2 separate regions of the Homo sapiens genome follow, and region 1 is linked to region 2. The links come from fine-mapping of genetic effects on gene expression. A gene starts in region 2. The other region holds a variant in brackets. All regions are shown on one strand. Distances are between the middles of the regions. Region 1 holds the start of LOC105373188 (a long non-coding RNA gene). Region 2 holds the start of CASK (calcium/calmodulin dependent serine protein kinase).

Region 1 (4,388 bases), 1.0 Mb before region 2:
ACATTTTTCAACTCTGCAGTATCTATGTCAATTGCATTTTTCAACTCTGTGATATCTGTTTGAGTCTTTTTAATTATGTCAATCTCTTTGTTAAATTTATTTCATAGGATTCTGAATTCCTTCTCTGTGTTATCTTGAATATTGTTGAGTTTCTTCAAACCAGCTATTTTGAATTCTTTGTCTGAAAAGTCACATATCTGTCTCTCTATGATTGATCCCTGGTCCCTTATATAGTTTATTTTTTCGGTCATGTTTCCCGGATGGTCTTGATGCTTGTGTATGTTCATTGGTGTCTCAGCATTGAAGAGTGAGATATTTATTTTAGTCTTTGCAGTCGGGACTTGCTTTTACCCATCCTTCTTGGGAAGGTTTTCCAGGTATTCGAAGGGACTTAGGTGTTGTGATCTAACTTACTGGTTGCTGTAGCCATATCTGCATTAGGGGGCATCCCAAGTCCAGTAACGCTGTGGCTCTTGCAGACTGGTAGAGATACTGCCTTGGTGGTCTTGAATAAGATCTGGAAGGATTCTCTGTTTCACCATGGAGAGATTCTCGTTGTCTTCCCTTACTTTTTCTCTTCCCTTACTTTCTCCCAAATCTCTCTCTCTCCATGATGAGTTGCCTGGAGCTGGGGGAGGGGTGACACAAGGACCCCTGTGGCCACCACCAGTGGGACTGTGCTGGGTGAGTCCTGAAGCCAGCACAGCACTGGGTCTCACCCAAGGCCCATGGTAACCACTGCCTGGCTATTGCCAATGTTCACTGAAGGCCCTAGGGCCCTATAATCAACAGGTGGAAAAGCTGTCCAAGCTTGTGTCCTTCTCTTCAGGGTGGTGAGTTCCTCACAGTCTCAGTTGGATCCAGAGATGCCACCAAGGAGCCAGGGCCTGGGGTTGGAAACGTTAGGAATCTACCTGGTGCTCTGTTCTACTGTATCTGAGCTGGCACCCAAGCCACAAGACAAAATCCTTCCCACTCTTCCCTTCCCTTCCACAAATAGAGGAATTTCTCCCTATGGCCACGGTTACCTCAGGCCCAGATTGTACACTGTCTGCTACTGCTGATGTTCATTCAAGGCACAAGGGCTCTTCAGTCAGCTTGTGCTGACTGCTGCCTGGTCTGGGACTCTACTTTCAGAGCAGTGGGCTCCCCTCTGGCCAAGGGCAGGTTCAGATGCTATACAAGAGCCAAGGCCTGGAATCAGGGGCCCCAGGAGGCTGCTTGTTGCTCTACCCCACTGTGGCTGAGCTGGTACCTAAGCTACAAGACAAAATCCCCTTACTCTTCTATCTCCTTTTCTCAAGCAGAAGGAGTCCCTCTCCATTGCCACCACAACTAGAAATGTGCTGGGTCACACTTAAAGCCAACACATCTCTGAGTCTCACCCAAGGTCCACAGCGAGTATTCCCTGGGTGCCACTGCTGCTGATTATTCAGGGCCCAAGGGCTCTTCAGTCAGCAAACAATTAATTCTTTCAGGACTGAGCCCTTCCCTTCAAGGCAGCAGGTTCCCTTCTGGCCCACAGTGCATCTAGAAATGTCTTCAGGGTGCCAGGGCCTGAAATGGGGGTCTTGGGACTCTGCCTGGTGCCCTATCCTACTGTGGCTGATCTGGTATCCAAGTTGCAAGAATAAGTCCCCTCTACTCTTTCCTCTCCTCTCTTCAAATGGAGGGAAGGAGTCTCTCCCAGAGCTGTGAGCCGCACTGCCTGGGGTTGGGGGAGGGGTAGCTCAAGCACTCCCCTGGCCACCCCGGTTGGTGTCTCACTGGGTGGTGTGCCCCACAAGTCCACTGGCTCTGAGCCCAGCATAACACCAGCATTTGTATAGAAATTGCAACTCTTGTGGTTTAGACTGCATTTCAAGTTTATTTAGAACCTCAGAGCACTTTAACCTGGAGCAGCAAGGCTTGCCAGAACTCAGGTTCCAACTGCTGGGATGGGCAATTCCTCTCTGGCTAGGGCTTGTCTAAACATGCCCTCTATGAGCACTGGATGAGTTTTTCCCAGATTGCTTTCCACTGTGACAGGGCAGCACTGAGTTCCAATGAAAAGTCCCACGATCACTGTGCTCTCCCTCCCCCCAGTAC[A/C]CAGATTTTCTCTTCATGCCACACAGCTACTGCCAGGGTATGGGGGAGGGTTGGCGTTGGCAATTCAAGACTGCCTTTCTTACCCTCTTCAGTGACTTTCAGTGATAGGAAGTTAAAACCAGGTACTGTGATCACTCACCTGATTTTTGGTTCTTATGAAGGTGCTTTTTTGTGTGCATAGTTGTTCAAGTTGGTGTTCCTGTGGGGAGGATGATCAGTAGGGTTTCTCTTCAGCCATCTTGCTCCACTTTCCTCCAGAGTAGATATGACACGGTGGTTAAGGAGAAAGGAGTGTCAAGGATGACTCTTCAATTTTGATTTGTATAGTCCCATACATGAGGAGACAAATGAAAGAGGATTAAATTTGGGGTATAGAGTTTGGAGATTATCAGTGCTGTGTTGAACTTGTTGAATTTGAGATACCTTTGAGCCATTGAAATGAAGAAGTTGAGCAGAGAGTTGGATATGGAGGCCTAGGACTCAAAAAGCAAATCCGGGCAAGAAGCCCTAGTAAGATCAGCTTTATCCCTTGGCCAGAACACTATCACTCTCAACCAGATTCAAGACAGGTTAACAAGCTTAACAAGCACCTGTTTCTAGTGGACTCCTCCTCCACTATAAAATAGGCCCACGGGGCTCAGAGTGCTCCAGGAAAGACAATATTTACAACACAACTCAACATTGTGAAGGCCATTGATATCAACTGTCACTCTCAATAGAACTGATGCCTCATCTTCTTCTAAGAGACCATATTAAGACTAATTCTTTTTCCTCCCTATTCCATCAACCTCCCTCCCATGTGTGTTTTCATCAGTTACTACCAGAAGTCCAAATCTCCCAGGTCATCCATCATCATCTAGACTTTCTCTCCATCCACCTCCATGCAGGTGCAAGTCTGATATCATCTCTCACATTTCCCTGATCCTCAGTTCCACATCCTCTGAAATTCAAAGGCCTGCCATCAGCACAATCCCCTGTTTCCTTTACTTTATCTCTTAATGTTCCCTTCACCTTCTTGTTTTAATTATAATCTGGCTGTTTCCTAAGGACAATAATGGTTTTTTTCTGCATCCCTCTTATATGCTACTTATAGGACCTCAAGGTAAGGTAGGTGTCCTTGCAACTTCCAGATCATTTTACCTTCATTCTCCACCAAAAGCCACAGGTCTTTGAATTGCATTGCTCCAGACATCACAATTCCTAGTTTATTATTTTAGCAGTCATTGTATACTACACTCCTAGTTACTCAGCCTCATTCATATTGGAAAATATCCTTAATCTGAACTCAAACATCATGACCACAGTCATCTATGTTTCTAGCTCATAATTCTATTACCCTCATTTCAACTATTCTTAAATCCTATCAGAATTCCTAACCACTGTCTAAGTGGGCCTTCATCACTGTTGCCTAGCAAATGTGACTTCTCTCGCTGGTAAAGTTGCTGTGCTACTTGTTGAAAAGTCTATTTCCTGTCTTCTTTTCTCTTTTCCAATCCTTCATCATATTCATACTCTATTTTACTGTCATCAAATCTACAACCTCTTCTACCAGAACTGATATTCTCTCTATGCCACCTGTAAAAAGTAAGGAATAATAATAATGACTAAACTTACACTGTAAACCTCCTCCTCTGTACCACCTGATATTTTTGCTCTGGAAATTATCCCCTCTTTAGAAGATCACCCCCATTATCACAGCTTTTTCTTTCTGTCTTCATTTTGTTCTTTATAAAGAAGCTGCGGTGATTTTTTTTAAAAAAACTATAAATCAGTTTACTTCACTCCCCTGTTCAAAATTGTCTAGTGGTTTCCTATCACATTTAGATAACAATCGAAATTATGACCGTGACCCAAAAAAGTCTGCCTATCTTTCTGACCCCATTTTTTACCCCTCCCCACTTTGCCCAGTCTACTCCCATCTTCTTGCAATCAGTTGAACATGAACAATTCAAATTCATTCTTGTCTCAGGGCCTTTCTATTTGTTGTACTTTCTTTCTGGAATGCTAGTCCTCTATATACTCTCATTCTTACTTCTTCTCTTCAATTAGATCTCTGTTCAAATATCACCTTCTCAGACAGACATTCTCTGAACATCCTATTTAAAAGAGCCACCACCCACCTGTCCTACATCACGTTACTTTCTATTCCATTACCTTGCTTGACAGTATTCATAAAACTTTCACTAGCAGGAACTATTTTATTTGTTTGTTTGCTTTTTTCCTGGTTTTGTCTATCTCTTCCCTAGAATATCATCCCCACTGGGGCTGAAACTTTATATTTTGTTCACACTTGCATTCTA
Region 2 (4,388 bases):
CTTGCAGGTAAGTGTTGCTGCCTGTGACTCTGTCCTGGCCCGTGAGATGAGAAAAAGATATTTTCTTTCCCTAATAGATGAGAGACGGAGCAGAAAGGCCTCTCCTGTCCTTACTGCCCTCCTGCTTCCTCCCTTTAATGTCTGAAATTGCAGCAGCCATCTCATAATGATGAGGCAACAAGCCTGAGGATGAGATGCTAACATTACAAGAATGGCAGAGTGGAACGAATAAACCTAGGTCACTGATGACGCACTTGAATAGCTGATCAATGTTAATAACCACACATCTCCTTGCTACATGGAAAAGAGCACCCCGCCCCCTTGCATTTGTTTAAACCACTGTTAGTTGAATATTCAGTTGCTAACATCTGAACACAATCTAATAGATGCACTTACTTTAACATTTTCTTTGTGGAAACGAAAACAGAACCAAATTATTGACACCTGACTCACTAATACATGGGCTTATTTGTTGGAACAGTATTGGATTTTTGGAAGACACCCAGAGAAAAATTAATTTAAAAGGTTTGCTTATTTTAGTCCCCGAAGCAGAGAGGATCTACTTCTAACCATCATACATGGTACAACTTCTGAGGGATGTGTATTGCAGAGAATTTCTATATGACTAAATATTACACTGGGAACTGGGAGATCTAAGTACAGATCAGGAGAAAAAGTCCTCAGCTTTGTGCTGATTGGCAGACCTCAAACCACTCAAAGCTTGTGACCAGGGAGTGCCAAGAGCTGATTAAATTAGGCTTATCGCTGTGGCAAGGGGGCTGCATGTGTTAGTTTAATTAATCAGAGCCCACCTCTCCAGTAAAGATGGTTACAATCTCACCTCAAGTCCAGAGCTGCTACCCCATGGTGGGGGAGAGGGGTGGGATGGCTTTTGGGAGAGCAACCACCACATTCTTCCATCTGTAAGTGAGGGAGTCTCTTTCCAGATCCAAACCAACTGTGATCCTATGAGCAGAGCACTTACTTATTTTTGCAATCGTCTGTCTCTCTTTTTTTCACCTGCACTTTCTTTTCTGTTTTACTTTATGATTGTCCTTTTCTACCTCTGAGCATAGGTCCCTGTAGAAGACAACAAACCCCAAAATGAAGTCGACAAGGCTTGGTATAGCTCAGTCTTGGGCTGGGGAAAAGAAGTGAAGCTGACAAGGTGACTTGAGAGGGTCCCTGTGCACTTCAGGGCAGAATGGAGTGACGCCTTATTCATTAGACATGAGCTGGACATGCCAACTTGTGGTGAGTAACTCTTGGACCCTTAAAGGAGGCAATGTTTCTCAAGTTCTGAAGCCCCCGTCTCTAGAGAATGCACAAGCTCTTTGAGAAAGGAGGAAAACCGTGTGCAATTACACTTGTCCTCTGATCTGCATTTAAAAAAAAAAAAAAGGTTTAGTACCCAAATCCTTAGCAGGCAAATCTCTCAGCCTTTTGAGGGAGTGGTCAAGGGTTTGCACGAAACGTTTCTGAAGAGAAAATAGGCTGTGAGTCTCCACATCACCCCCTCCACTTTGGTATTAATAAATACTTTTTTTAAAAAAAATACTGCACTGAGAAATTTACCAGACGATTTCTGGAAACTGACTTATGAACTAATTGGGCACTTTTGCTGTGCGGAGGAACAAAGACACTATTGGTCTTCAACTGAGGCATATACCTGTCTGATGGCGCTGGCTCATTCCGCACATGCTCAGTTGAACAGAAATCTTCATATTGAATGCAACCTAGCACAGCGGCAACACCCAGAACCTCACTCCCTGGCTGCTCCTGTGCCTGCACTCCCTCTAGTTGCATTCTGTTCCTGACAAGTCTAACATTTATAGGGAGTATAGAGAGCAGAGTAGGTCCTGGGAGTTTGAGGACAATATACAAATGAGCTTAAAGTCACGGTTTGTCCCTGCCTTCCTAGCTTCTCTCTAGGTTGGTCTCTAGTGAGGGTAGGCGCTGGATAGATATTTGTTGAGTTTGGGGCAGAACGTGGGAGAAGCTGTCTCTATAGATGACCGTTTGCTGTCGCACACCTTCCTAGGCAGTTTTTGTTTAGTCCTTTTCTTGGACGACCTCCCCTTACCCCCAGCCCTCATCTTCATTAAGGAATGACAGGGTAGCACTAAAAGCATCCGCTGCCAAGCACGGATTCAGTGACAACCTCTCTCCACCTCTCTTTTAGCTTTCTCATTCATTAGCACCCTTTCCCTGCCTCTTTTCCCAGCAAAAAACTGGGAAAGGCTCCCTGCGATTACAAAAGAAGGAAAGGGGAGCGGCCAGAGTTTCGTGCCTCTTGCCGGACAACGAGCGTGCAGCCGTGGACCTTTTGTCTCCAGCCCCTTTCGCGGCTTGGTCGCGGCTAGGCGCGGAGGCGACGACCCCAACCAGCCCCGCCTCGGCAGCTGCAGCCGGCGCGCCCCACTCAACCCCCCGCGCCCTCTAGAATCCCGGTGCCCGCCCGTTCGCCGTGACGCGGCCGGCGCCCCGCGCATGCGCCGCTCGGCCCGCTCCCCTTTCCCTGGGCCACCGCCTCCCGACCGGTTGGAGTGGGCGGAGCCTGTGGTTCTGGAAGCCGCGCCGCCGACGGGGGAGGAGGGCGTGTCTGCGCGAGGCGGGTGAGCGGGGCTGGCGAGCCGGTCGGCTGCTGAGGCGTAGGGGCGGAGCAGAAGGCGGCGGCCGCGGCTCCCGCCCGCACAGAGCGCCGGTCCCGCGAAGCCCCCTCCCACTCCCGGGCGGGCGGTGGCGGCTGCGGGAGGAGGAGAAAGAGGAGGGAGCGTCTCTGCCGCCGCCTCCTGGTCCCCAGCGCCGATCCGCCGCCGCCGCCACCTCCCTCCGCGGCGATCCTCGCTCCATGGTCCTGCCGCGGCCCCCTCTGTAGCCCGAGCTGCTCCGCGACGCGACGGAGCCGGCCTCGGACAGAGGGAGCGGTCGCGGCCTCGCGGCCCGCGCGGGCTGACGAGCGGAGAGCGCGACGCCGCGCGGTCCCCGAGGATCCGCACGCCGGGCAGCGCGGCCCGAGCAGCGCGAGAAGCAGCGGGCGGGCGGGCGGCGCCGGGCCCGGGCCGCCCTCGCTCCCGCGCCCCGGCCCCGCCGCCCGCGCCGGGGCGGTCGCCTGCAGAGGAAGGCGCCGCAGTCTCTGGGCCTCGCGGCCCCACTCGAGCGTCCTCGGCACCGAGGGCTCGCGGGTCCTGAGGGGAGGAGGCGATCCCGGGGCTGGGCACTGAGCTCTTGGGCGCCCCCACCCCCGTTTTCGAAGCCCTCCACGCTGCGGCCGCTATCCCCTCCGGACCATGGCCGACGACGACGTGCTGTTCGAGGATGTGTACGAGCTGTGCGAGGTGATCGGAAAGTGAGTCTCCACGCGAGGGAGCGGGAGTGTGGAAAAATGCATTTCAGTGATGCCCCGGTCTTCCCGCACCCGCTCGGGGCCTGCCCCCTGCCCTCCCTCCTTCCCCTCTTCCCCTCTCGTCCTTCTCATCCTGGAGTATTTATAGACGTGTACCTGGAGCTCCTGCCAGGCGGGGGCCTGGGGGTTCTCAGCGGTCCATTGAGGCCACCGAGCCGAGGTTGGCCACCCCGTAAGGCGTGGGGCCGGCTGCCTGCATTTTATCTGACGGTTGCACAGGGACGTGGCACAGCCGATTTTATAGTTGCTTCAGTTGGGGTTATTGTTACCTTGCATGTACCATAGACCATTTTTGAAACAGAGCAGCTTGCATTTCCTTTGCTTGTGTGGTGAGAGAGTCCAGGGTTTTAATTGTGGGGTGTGTGTCTATTGTGCGGGATATTAGACAGATGCCTTTGTGTACACCCCATGCTCGGATTGGAGGGGGTCATTTAAGACGGGGTGCTTTCAGTTTCAGCAAATTCCCTCCTGGTGTACACGAACGTGGAAAGAGTTGGGGGCATTCGAATTTTTAATGCCTTGTTATGCAATGACTGTTCAATCAGTGCTCGAGACTCCCCTCGACTGTTGTTGGGATGGTGGTTAGCGTGGTAGAGCCGTCTGCTTTGAGTCACCGGGCTGGTCTAGAATATAGAACTGACAGTCCAAATGCTCATCCTTTCATCTGTGTTGTATAATTACGCTGGGGAAAAGCAGGGAATCAGATTAATCACAGTGCTGATTGAGAATTAAATCTGCAGTTCCTCATCTAATTGTCCATTCCTTAAATCTATTTTGAATAGTTTCCTTTTCATTCTTGTCAAACAGTACTCCAAGTGCACAATCCTGCTAATTTGCTTGTGAAGGAAATGCTGGCAATCTGAAGTTGATTTCCTAACACAGCGTGTATTCTGCGGCTTTAGAAGTTGAGGAGATAAGATTTAAGAGCAAATTTTTGCTTAATAAGGATCGCTAGAGCTAACATTGAAATATCTTACCTCTT

The links. PIP is the estimated chance that this variant, and not a neighbour inherited with it, causes the effect. A credible set is the group of variants that fine-mapping cannot tell apart.
Region 1: its variant is the best candidate, but not a certain one, in a credible set for the expression of CASK in whole blood (TOPMed, PIP 0.63).

What each region holds. Positions count from the first base shown.
Region 1 is chrX:42,918,426-42,922,813 of GRCh38, reverse strand. It overlaps LOC105373188 (a long non-coding RNA gene), which reads right to left and starts at 2,435. Exons shown (of 5, transcript XR_949037.3): 1 at 2,228-2,435. RefSeq lists an enhancer at 388-1,326. The variant A/C (reference allele first, on the strand shown) is at 2,089.
Region 2 is chrX:41,921,891-41,926,278 of GRCh38, reverse strand. CASK (calcium/calmodulin dependent serine protein kinase) reads left to right here and starts at 2,725. Exons shown (of 27, transcript NM_001367721.1): 1 at 2,725-3,349. The coding sequence starts at 3,291. RefSeq lists silencers at 2,371-2,950, 3,221-3,270.